2 separate regions of the Homo sapiens genome follow, and region 2 is linked to region 1. A link means that fine-mapping ties the variant in region 1 to the expression of a gene that starts in the linked region. Tissue or cell type: whole blood. Region 1 holds a variant in brackets; the other region holds the start of a gene. All regions are shown on one strand. Distances are between the middles of the regions.

Evidence for each region. PIP is the estimated chance that this variant, and not a neighbour inherited with it, causes the effect.
Region 2: MLC1 starts here. The variant in region 1 is fine-mapped to the expression of MLC1 in whole blood (INTERVAL, PIP 0.99).

What each region holds. Positions count from the first base shown.
Region 1 is chr22:50,141,432-50,147,111 of GRCh38, reverse strand. It overlaps MOV10L1 (Mov10 like RNA helicase 1), which reads right to left. Exons shown (of 27, transcript NM_018995.3): 16 at 4,923-5,031; 17 at 3,891-4,069; 18 at 2,869-3,015; 19 at 1,302-1,423. Among named protein-coding and RNA genes, the nearest start is that of PANX2, 26 kb to the left of the region's middle. The variant A/C (reference allele first, on the strand shown) is at 2,520.
Region 2 is chr22:50,082,100-50,087,428 of GRCh38, reverse strand. It overlaps MLC1 (modulator of VRAC current 1), which reads left to right and starts at 2,003. Exons shown (of 12, transcript NM_015166.4): 1 at 2,003-2,074; 2 at 2,468-2,703; 3 at 4,256-4,345. The coding sequence starts at 2,527. RefSeq lists an enhancer at 1,731-2,355 and a silencer at 4,075-4,369.

The sequences.
Region 1 (5,680 bases):
CCGCTCTGCCCCCAAAGAGCCCTCTGCACCCCAGTGAGGACTGGCTCTTCGGCTCTTGACCTTTGACTCATCAACACACATTAACAAAAAAAATCCCTGTCTTGTTCAGATCCGTGCTGTCCAATCCGGTAGCCACACACGGCTCTCGGGCACCGCACAGTGGCTAGTCTGAAACCTGACATGCTCTAAGTGTAAAATACATGGTGGATTTTGAAGACTTGAACCAAAAAAAATGTAAAGTGTCTCATCAATCACGTTCTACTAATCTCATGATGAAAGGACATCATGTATGTGAGAGAGTTAAACGCGCCGATGAAACCATCCGTGACACGCTGTGATAGGCGTGGCTGGCTGTGCCTTTGCTCCATGTGGAGCTGACGGACCACCTCCTGTGGTCACCCTCACGACCACCGTGACGCTGGACACTGTCCAGGGTGACCTGTCTCCAGGCTGTCAGGGAGGGTCACGACCACTGTGACGCTGGACACTGTTCAGAGCGACCTGTCTCCAGGCCGTCAGGGAGGGTGGGGCTTCCCTCAGAGGCCCTGGCTTCTCCCTCTCTCACCCTCAGCCTGTGCCCCCGACACTGTCTGGCTCTATGCACTGAGAGGGAGCTGCCTGCTGCCTCCCCGACCCCACCCCCCTGCACTGGGGTCTGAGAGTGCCTTGGTCCTCACTCAGCCTCCCTGGGCTCGAAGCTCTTCCTCCCAGCCCCCAGGGGAGGTCCTCCTATGACAGCCGGCACCCCACAATCCATCTCCTCCGCCTGTCTCCCCTGAAGAGCCCCCAGCGCCAGGGACACAAATGGCCCCCAGGGTCTGACCTTACAGAGCCCAGCCGTTTCCTAGGCAGCCTGCCTCCCCACGCCCACTCCAAGAGACTCACTCTCCTGCTCAGAAGCCCTTCACTGGCTTCCCGGCTCACCAGAGGTCGTCCAAAGGCCCCTCCACAGCCCGCCAGGCCTCCCCCTCACCACCCCTTTCAGGCCGTTCCTGCTCACGAGGCTCTGGCTCTACAGTCTCCTTTGGGGAGACCTCAGTGCTCCCCCACCGCGGGGCCTCTGCATGGGCCAGTCCATCTGCCTGCCCATCCCACTGCTGGCTCCTTCGAGTCCTTGGGGTCTCGGCTTCCCCAGCTCCATTCAGGCACGGCCCTCCCCAACCAGCCTTTCTCGCCCACAGCCCTGCCTCCCTCCCTGAGCACTGAGTCTCTGGGTCATCCGCCCCTCAGACAGAAGCTAGGAGAGGACTCCGACCTCTGCCCTGGGAGGCCCCATGCCGCGCTCCATGCCCGGGGCTCACCTCACTCCTATTTGGTAAAACAGCCCTGAGCTGCTGCATGTGGTGATGATTATCCGGAAGCGTGAGGCTTTCCAGATGTCTTCTCCGTCTCTGCAATACGGTTTGACGGCGTCAATAACTATCTGGGGGCAAGGAGGCGTAGAGTTAGTTTACTCCTCCAATTATTAAGCAGAATTCCAAAAGGGAACCTTGCCCTGGTACCACTTCTTAGTTACGTCTAAGTCATGATTTAAGGTTTTTTTCTCAAAATATCTCATACTTCCTTATCAATTCAGTCCATGTTTTATCAACTCTAGAGCCACAAATATAACACATAATCCTGCAGACCCTTCCCCAAAACAACTTTGTACATTTTCTATTCAGTTTGTTTGTTTGTTTATTTAGAGAGGGAGTCTTGCTCTTGCTCTGTCGCCCAGGCTGGAGTGCAATGGTGCAATCTCGGCTCACTGCAACCTCTGCCTCCCAGGTTCAAGTGATTCTCCTGCTTCGGCCTCCGGAGTAGCTGGGATTACAGGCGCATGCCACCACGCCCAGCTATTTTCAATGTCTTTTTTAAACGCAATATTTCAGGCTGGGCACAGTGGCTAAAGCCTGTAATCTCAACACTTTGGGAGGCAGAGGCGGGTGGATCACTTGAGATCAGGAGTTCGTGACCAGCCTGACCAACATGGTGAAACCCTGTCTCTACTAAAAATACAAAATTAGCTGGATGTGGTGGCACACACCTGTAATCCTAGGTACTTAGGAGGCTGAGGCAGGAGAATTGCTTGAACCCGGGAGGCGGAGGTTGCAGTTAGCCAAGATCACACCACTGCACTCCAGCCTGGGCAACAAGAGCAAAAACTCTGTCTCAAACAAACAAAAAAATAAAAGCAATACTTCGCTCTATAACCAAACCAGCAACTTAAAGGAATACTTAAAACCAAACCAGGCCGGGCACGGTGGCTCACGCCTGTAATCCCAGCACTTTGGGAGGCCGAGGCGGGCAGATCATGAGGTCAGGAGATCGAGACCATCCTGGCTAACACGGTGAAACTCCGTCTCTACTAAAAATACAAAAAATTAGCCGGGCGCAGTGGCGGGTGCCTGTAGTCCCAGCTACTTGGGAGGCTGAGGCCAGAGAATGGTGTGAACCTGGGAGGCGGAGCTTGCAGTGAGCCGAGATCATGCCACTGCACTTCAGCCTGGGCGACACAGCGAGACTCCGTCTCAAAAAAA[A/C]AAAACAAAACAAAACAAAAAACACCAAACCAACAAAACAAAACTACTTAAAAAGTAACAAGACGTTTGGGGATTAAATAAAAGAGGAATGTGATAATTTTACAATGCTACGAATGCCCACAATAGGTGTGATAACTCACACAGAGTGAGAATGTGATGAAATAGTCAGCAATCAAGCTCCACCATTTAGCGGTGAGGGAGGGCCCATGGCAGAGCCATTTCTCAAACACAGCTTTCTGTGGCGCCTCTGTGCCCACCCTCCTACCCCTGCCCTCCCCTGTCCACTTGGCATTTCCTATGTTCCAGGGAGGGGTTCTGGTGCCCCCCACTGCTTGCACCAAGGGCTCACCTCCTCGAACCTGCAGGTGGCGTTCACCCGGACCATGGTGGCCGGCTGTAGCACCTTGCTCTCGTGCAGCCGCAGACACACGAGGTCAGCAGCACTGTTGGAGGGCGCACAGACTAAAATCCGACTGTCCGGCAAGGCAAAGTGTACCTTCATCAAAGACACACAAGAGACCAAGGCTCAACATCCACACCGCAAGGTGGAAACCAGGAGTCTAACCTCAACACACACATTCGGGTGCAGGGACTCAGCTGCATGGGCTCAGATGCCAGCCCCCAACACACTGAGACCTGGGCCACGACTCTGCCTCATCACACTGCTGCCAAAGCATGGGTTAGGTGGGAAGGTTCTCCGCACTCTCTAAGATTCTAAACCACCTTTCAGGGCAGAAACAGAGTCAGATTCATCTGCACACATCTGGCGTGTGGTACAATTGTGCGCTCAATACCTGTTTGCTAATTTGAATCCTGAATGACGCTAAATGTAGATGGTCTTCGGCTTATGATGGTTTGACTTAACGCTTTTTTGACTTTATGATGGTGTGAAGACCATCCCCAGTCAGTCTGCTCCTCACCTGACAAGGGATCATGCCTTGATGAACCTGAAACAGGCTTCCCAAATCCCATTACGATGGGTTATTGGGTTGTAACCCCATCAAAAGTTAAGAAGCATCTGTAGACAATAGTTTCATAAACTTAACTTCAATTACAAATGAAGATATCTAAAACTTCTGTGGAATGGTGGCTGTAGCTACTATAAGAGTAACTTCTTTTCTGCAGCAAAATGTCATGATTCAGATAAAATAGTTTACCAGGCTAAAAATGAGTTTCCTTCTAAACCTATGAAATAAGCTTTTAAATCCCTACATATCCACAAAAACAGACTTAACATTATGAAATAACTGGTATTTCTCAAGCTCTTTCCAACTGTCTGATTCTACAATCTAAACTCACACTTCCTGAAGACACAGACGACACATGAACAGCAGCACAGAGCCACAGCACCCGCGGCGCCGCTGTCCTTACCTGTAAAACAGCCTCTATTATTGTCACTGTCTTTCCAGTACCAGGAGGTCCAAAGAGAATATACGGGAGGGGACGGCAGTCACCACTCAGAATCCTTTTAACTGCTAACTTCTGATTTTCATTTAGCACTGGGTTGAAAAACTCCATCTTTCTTGCTTTAGGGGTCTGAATTTCATCTACTGTATTCAAAGTGAAGAAAGTTTCAGTTAGATGCAAACAGCTCTCAACAGCTGTGGACACGTCCTCACCTAGGTCAGGCGTCAGCACGTCTGTGCAAAGGCTAAATCAGAGTCACAGACAGGGAGTAGCTCTTCAGTGTGACCAGGGGTAAGATGCGCACAGGGCATTCCTCTTAATAATCTGTTTGCATTTTTTTTTTCTTTTTTGAGACAGGGTCTCGCTCTGTCACCCAGCTTGGAGTACAGTGGCACAATCTCAGCTCACTGTAACCTCCATCTCCTGAGCTCAAGCGATCCTCCCACGTCAGCCTCCCGGGTAGCTGGGACCACAGGCGCCCACCACCACACCTGGCTAATTTTTGTATTTTTTTTTTTTTATAGAGACAAGGTTTCGCCATGTTGTCCAGGTTGGTCTCGAACTCCTGAGCTCATATGATCTGCCCACCTTAGCTTCCCAAAAGTGTTAGGATGACAGGTGTGAGCCCTGCACTCAACCTGTCTGTGCTTTGTTAAAGAGGGTCAGGAGAACGAATGCAGCTGCTGAGAGGAAAATGACAGGCTGTCAACCGATTCTGCGGCTTTAGAGATCACACTCAAATATTAGAGACTGGATTAAAAAATGTCCACATCTGCAGAGTACCTGGAAAAAAACAACCCAGAATCTAAAAGTCTTCTTAAAGTATCTAAGCTAAAACACCAAGTCTCCAGTCAGGGTGGAGACGGCAGCCGCCTGTCACAGGCCACACGCCCCCTACTGTTCTTCCTTCTGCATGAGAGCCCACTCCTCAAAGTCCCCGTTTTCCAGGCGACAGTCTCAGAGTTGCTCTTCTCCTTGCCCCTCATGAGCACATACCCCAATCGCTCATCTCTGCAGTAAAGGGTGCCAGCACCGGCAGGTCCTTGTCACCAACACGCCTCTCCTCTGTTCCATGCTCAGCTTGGTCCGTCATTGTTTTCCTATTCTAGAAATTATCAGGCAGAAAAATGTTTTAAAAAAACAGCTGTGTTTACACTGGCTTGGTTGAAAGAGCAAACGTAAACATCTAGTGTTCTACTTAGTATATTTATTTAACAGCTCTTTGGATGGATCACAGGTCAGACCCTTTGAAAAATAAAGAAAAAACAAACGATCAGATAAAAAACTGCTAAAAAAGTTTGTGCTTTTTTCTTTAAACTTGCTTTTAGAAATAAACTAAAATTTGTGATGAAACCAAAGCACAGGACTAAATTTTATTTTATTAATATCATCTTCCCTTGGTACATCCTACCTGCTTTCCAGGCTGGACAGTGGGGGAACCTGCAGGGGACAGTCAAGGGTACAGCCCAGGGCTCTGGGTCTCACGGGCCTGGAGAGTGTGCAAAGTGCCAGTGCTGCCTGTTGACGTCAGGCAAGATCCTGCACCAGGCCGGGCACGGGGCTCACGCTTATCATCCCACCACTGTGGGAGGCCAAGACAGGTGGATCACTTGAGCCCAGGAGTTTAAGACTAGCCTGGGCAACATGGTGAAACCCTGTTTCTAGCAAAAATACAAAAAAAAAAAAAAAATTAGCCGGGCATGGTGGTGCTCACCTGTGGTCCCAGCTACTTGGCAGGCTGAGGTGGGAGGATC
Region 2 (5,329 bases), 60 kb after region 1:
CCCTCATTTCTCTCCCCTGACTTCTTTTCCCTCATAGAGGAAATCATGTGTGTCACTGGATGCATTAGTCTGTTCTCACGCTGCTATAAGGACATACCCAAGACTGGGTAATTTTAGAGTCAAGTCCTTATAAAGGAAAGAGCTTTAATTGACTCACAGTTCCACAGGGCTGAGGAGGCCTCAGGAAACTTACAATCATGGTGGAAGGGGAAGCAAACATGTCCTTCTTCACAAGGTGGCAGGAAGGAGAAGTCTTGAGCAAAAGCGGGGAAAGCCCCTTATAAAAGACCATCAGATCTCATAAGACCTCACTCATTGTCAGGAGAACAGCAGCATGGGGGTAACCACCCCCATGATTCAATTACCTCCCACCGGGCCCCTTCCACGACATGTAGGAATTATGGGAATTACAATTCAAGATGAGATTTGAGTGGGGACACAGCCAAACCATATCACTGTATAACACACTAATTTGTTTATCCTGTGCACTCCTGTGCCCCCAATGAATGTAAACAGCCTATAGGAAGGACGTCACTTCTTTGTCCACCCCATAAATGTTTGTTGAATGTTGAATGATGATGGGACATCAGCAGGCAGAGGGATGAAGGGCATTTTAGGAGCAAGAATTTGTTGGAAGATTGTATGAAAGAACAGGGCCTGTTCTAGAAACTAGTGTTGCCAACAGAAACTTGGGAGCATTTCTCAAGTGATGACTTATGATCTGGGAAGCTGAGGGATTTGCTCTGCAACCTCTGGTTCAGGGCAGCTTGTTTGTATTTCTAAGTGGAGAGCAACTTTTGAAAGAAAAAAATGTTGAAATCCGATTAACATTTTTTTCCAAACAAAAAGAAACACAGGAGGATTCGATCCAGTTGGACCCACTCCCACTAATCCCGTTTATCGCTTTAAAAGATAGTGAAGTTTGGGAGGTTTCTCAATCCATTAAAATGAGTTCTTGACTTCACAGATTATAGTTTTTGAAAATTATTTCTCATCCTTGCTTGATTGAAATGAAGACAACAGAACATTGGCTGTGGTGGCTGGCACAAAATTAACTAACCCTAAAATACTAGTATAGCTTAAACTTTCGTTTATTGCTAAAAATTTATCACTGCTGTTTCCTGTGGGGGTGAGGTTGAGCAAAGTGTTTTGAGCTGCATTTATGCGTACTTGACACTTACGCATTTTGATCGAGGTGATTTAGTGGGCATTTTCACTGGGACAGGGATGCTTGTATGTGTAATCTTACTAAAAGCTAATAAAAACTTACTAAAAGCTAATAAAAGCTTACTAAAAGCTTCTTGCTTGATTGAAACGAAGACAACAGAACATCCCATGGTCTGGAACCTGATGACTTTGCTCAAGTTTTAATGTGGGTTCATGGTTTAAGGAGCTGGTTTTTCAGAAACTTTAGTTTGAGCCTTTTTACAATGTGCACAAAGAACCCGTTGCTGTAGTTGTCAGGGTGCCAGTGTCTCTGGGCGACACACATTACTGTGGTTTTTCTCTGCTTGGTGAGCAGAGATAAAGGGGGCAGCAGGACCGGGCCCACCAGCCATCCGGGCTGCCCACGCAAACCACAGGGCCGAATCCGGAGCCGCCCAAGGCCACACAGCTAAGCCGAGTGCGTGAATGCTTATGTGACCGTGTGAAGGAGGTTCCCACCGTGTGGCTGTGGGGGATGGAAAAAGGCTACTTGGAAAGATGTAGAAGACCTTCGAGTAAACAGTTACGTTTCAGAAACAGAGCCTGCTCAGAATGTGTACTTGGTGGGATTCTATTCTTAGGGACGCTTCTTTCTTCTGAGAGACCCGAGCTCTGTGGCGAGTGGCACAGGCAGGGCCCCTTCCTTTCCTAGTTGGGTTCTGACAGCTCCGAGGCAGTGGTTTACACAACCAACACGAAACATTTCTACGATCCACCCGATTCCTCCCCTCATTGATATTCAGGAAGCAGCTCTCCTTCCCCTGCCTTCAGCTCAAGTTTGCTGAGCTTTTGTTTCATTTGTGAATACTTCTTGCTGGAAGTCCCTCACCCAGAGACCAGTGCTCCCAACGGCAGAGCAGCGGGGGAGGTAAGTGCTCAGACATTAAGCCGTTGAGTAGAGGCATGTTTTGCAATCTCTCGTTTAGCTACCAATTGGAGCAGTTTAACGTGCTTGAGTCCCCGGCGTGATGTGTTCATGGACGAAGTTGCCGATGGATGTTGTCAGGTGTTGCACCTGGAGGGCCCAGATGGATCAATGAGGCATTTAAAGTGTAGAATCTCACCCTGAACCCAGACTATTCAGGTCCGTTTTTCTAGGAAAGTTATTTCTTTTTCACTTTTAGATTCAAGTGCTCATTTTCTTCTTCAAATTTAGAGCACTTCAGTATGAACAATATTTCTTTTGTTAAAAAATATTTCTTGGAAACAACTTATTGAAGTTTCCTCAGAGTGGCCAAAGCCGATGATAATTTTATTCCAGATAAAGAACTGGTGACACGTGGCTGTACATTCAGCACAGCTGTGGTGTCCCCAAGTGCCATGACCCAGGAGCCATTCAGAGAGGAGCTGGCCTATGACCGGATGCCCACGCTGGAGCGGGGCCGGCAAGACCCCGCCAGCTATGCCCCAGACGCGAAGCCGAGCGACCTGCAGCTGTCGAAGAGACTGCCCCCCTGCTTCAGCCACAAGACGTGGGTCTTCTCTGTGCTGATGGGGGTGAGTAGCTCCACACTAAGCCCTTGGAGGGCCACGAGCATCTGGTCCCTCTGGTGACGGACTGCAGCGCCCTGGAGCCCCAGGTGGGACAGAGAGAGCAACTCTCAGACTAACCCTGCTGCTGCAGAACTCTTGGATGCCGACGAGCTTGTTTTGCTTGTGTTTTCACAATTATTTTTATTAATTTATGGGTGTCTGTTGTGCCAGCCTTGAGCTGCTCCAGGTTGTGGCTTAGTCCCACCAGGGTAGGGACAGTCCCAGGGCCATGAATGGGCCCCAGGAGTCTCCATGACCCTCGGCTCTGGGGGCCCAGGGTCCTCTGAGGGGTCACCTGCAAAGGTGGGAGGAGGCGTCTCAGGCCTTCAGGTCGGCCCTCACAGAGAGAACCTCAGGGACCTCCTCCTCCTAGGGAGGGCCTCAGGGGCCGGCTGGGAGGGAGCTGGGGAACAAAGGAACAGGTCTGGGGTGGACGGGCAGCGCCAGATGTCCGAGGGATTTCCCTGGGGTCCTGGCCATTCCCTGCACAGTCGTGGGCACAGAGATGATTGGAGGAGCCACTTGGGCCTGAGTGTGTGCAGCTGCTCAGAGCCATGCTGCAGGACAGGCCTCTATGCAGGGACCCCCGGTTCCGTGTAGCTTGGGCTGAGAATGAGATCCAGGCTGTGATTTCTCCCCTCCCTGTGCCCTGGCCTCCGCCGGCAGCCCCTGCAGCACCCACAGTGGTCCTGCCCACCTCCCGTGGCCTGAGCATGCCCCACCAAGACAGGCGTCTGCCTCGGAGCTGGGGACAGAGGCGGCTCCCGGGTGGTGGTGGCCATCTCCGGGCTCTGCCCTCCTCCACCTGGTGCCCTGGACTTGGTCGCAGCCCCTCCCCCGCCCAGGCCAGATCCCCTCTGCCCCAGACCTCGCTTCCTCTGCCAGGACCCTGGGTCCCAGTGACCTTTGATACTGACTCCCCTCAGACTCACCCCGGGGGTGCTGTGCGTGAGAGAGAGCCCCCTCCCCACCGCACCCCTGCAGTGCTGTGCGTGAGAGAGAGCACCCTCCCTGCCTCCTGCTAGGGTCTTCCCTGCTCAGGAGCCCCTGGGCCTGGAGCCCCTGCCTGGAGGGATCTTCTTCCAGATCTGGAAATTAGGTTCTGCAGACGGAGGGGGATGGGCAGTTGTTTTCCAGTCTCGTGTCTGGACCTGGGTGTGGGATCTGGAAGACTGCACGCACAACATGTTGGGGCAGGAGTATTTTGTGGGGAGAGGTGCCATTCCTTGCTCTAAATATTGGCAGATCCCCTTTCTTCTCTCCTCCAGATAACAGCGTGGGGGGTCCATGCTCCGACATGGCTGGGGGAGGCTGGTCCATGTCCTGGGCTGCGGCGGGGCTGCGTCTGTCCTACAGGAGGAGTCCAGGATGGGCGGGTCCCAGGTGCGGGTGTGGTTGATGCTGGGGGACGTGGGTGAGTCACCAATACACAGACAGTGAAGCAGAAGTTGAAGGGTCAGGGTCCAGCCTGGGGACGGGGCGCGTTGTAACCTGGGATTCTGTCGCTGTCTTGCAGAGCTGCCTCCTGGTGACCTCGGGGTTTTCGCTGTACCTGGGGAACGTGTTCCCGGCTGAGATGGATTACTTGCGCTGTGCTGCAGGCTCTGTAAGCAGCTTCCTCCACGCCTCTGCCAGTGCCCAAGCTCGCCGGCACGTGCTCTGGTTTCTTTGTTCTGAGATGTGCAGGTTTCTGTCACCTGTACCTCATTCAAACCTCTTCATATGGGCCGGGCACAGTGGCTCATGGCTGTCATGCCAGCACTTTGAGGGGTGGAGGTGGGTGGATCACCTGAGGTCAGGTGTTTGAGACCAGTCTGACCAACATGGACAAACCCCATCTCTACTAAAAATACAAAAATTAGCTGGGCGCGGTGGTGGGTGCCTGTACTCCCAGCTACTCAGGAGGCTGAGGCAGGAGAATCGCTTGAACCTGGGAGGCGGAGGTTGCAGTGAGCCCAGATTGTGCCACTGCACTCCAGCCTGGGCAATGAGAGTGAAACTTCGTCTCAAAACAACAACAACAAGAAAAAAACAAAAAACTCTTCATATGACTTTAGTTTCACGTAGAGTTCATCACCTTTGAGAATTACTGATGAAGCAGGCCTGAACCTTGCTCTGCAGACGCCTGTGCAGGGAATTGCGTGTTGATTCTGAGCCTGCGGCTGCGTCCTGCCAGAGCTGGCAGCATCTGCCCTCAGGGGACTGGGACCTGTGCCCCACATCCTCCCAAAGCTTCATGTTGTGTTTTTAGAAACTTACACAGTGCCAAGGCCGGTGGAGGCACCCACTGATCCTCAGAGCAAGGGAGGACAGACAACCGCTGTCCCCTGGTCCTCTGTGAACCCCGGCCACTGCCTCCCCAGCGTCCCGGCAGCTAGAGCACCATGCTGGCTGACCCCTGGGCTCTGGCCCGCAAGCCATGGACCCCATGCCCCTCTGGCCCGCAAGCCGCGCACCCCATGCCCCTCTGGCCCGCAAGCCGCGGACCCCATGCCCCTCTGGCCCGCAAGCCGCGGACCCCACGCCCCTCCTGCTTCAGCTGGTCCCGAGCTCTCCCCTCCTCTCGCTTCCACATGCCTGCTGGGTCTCT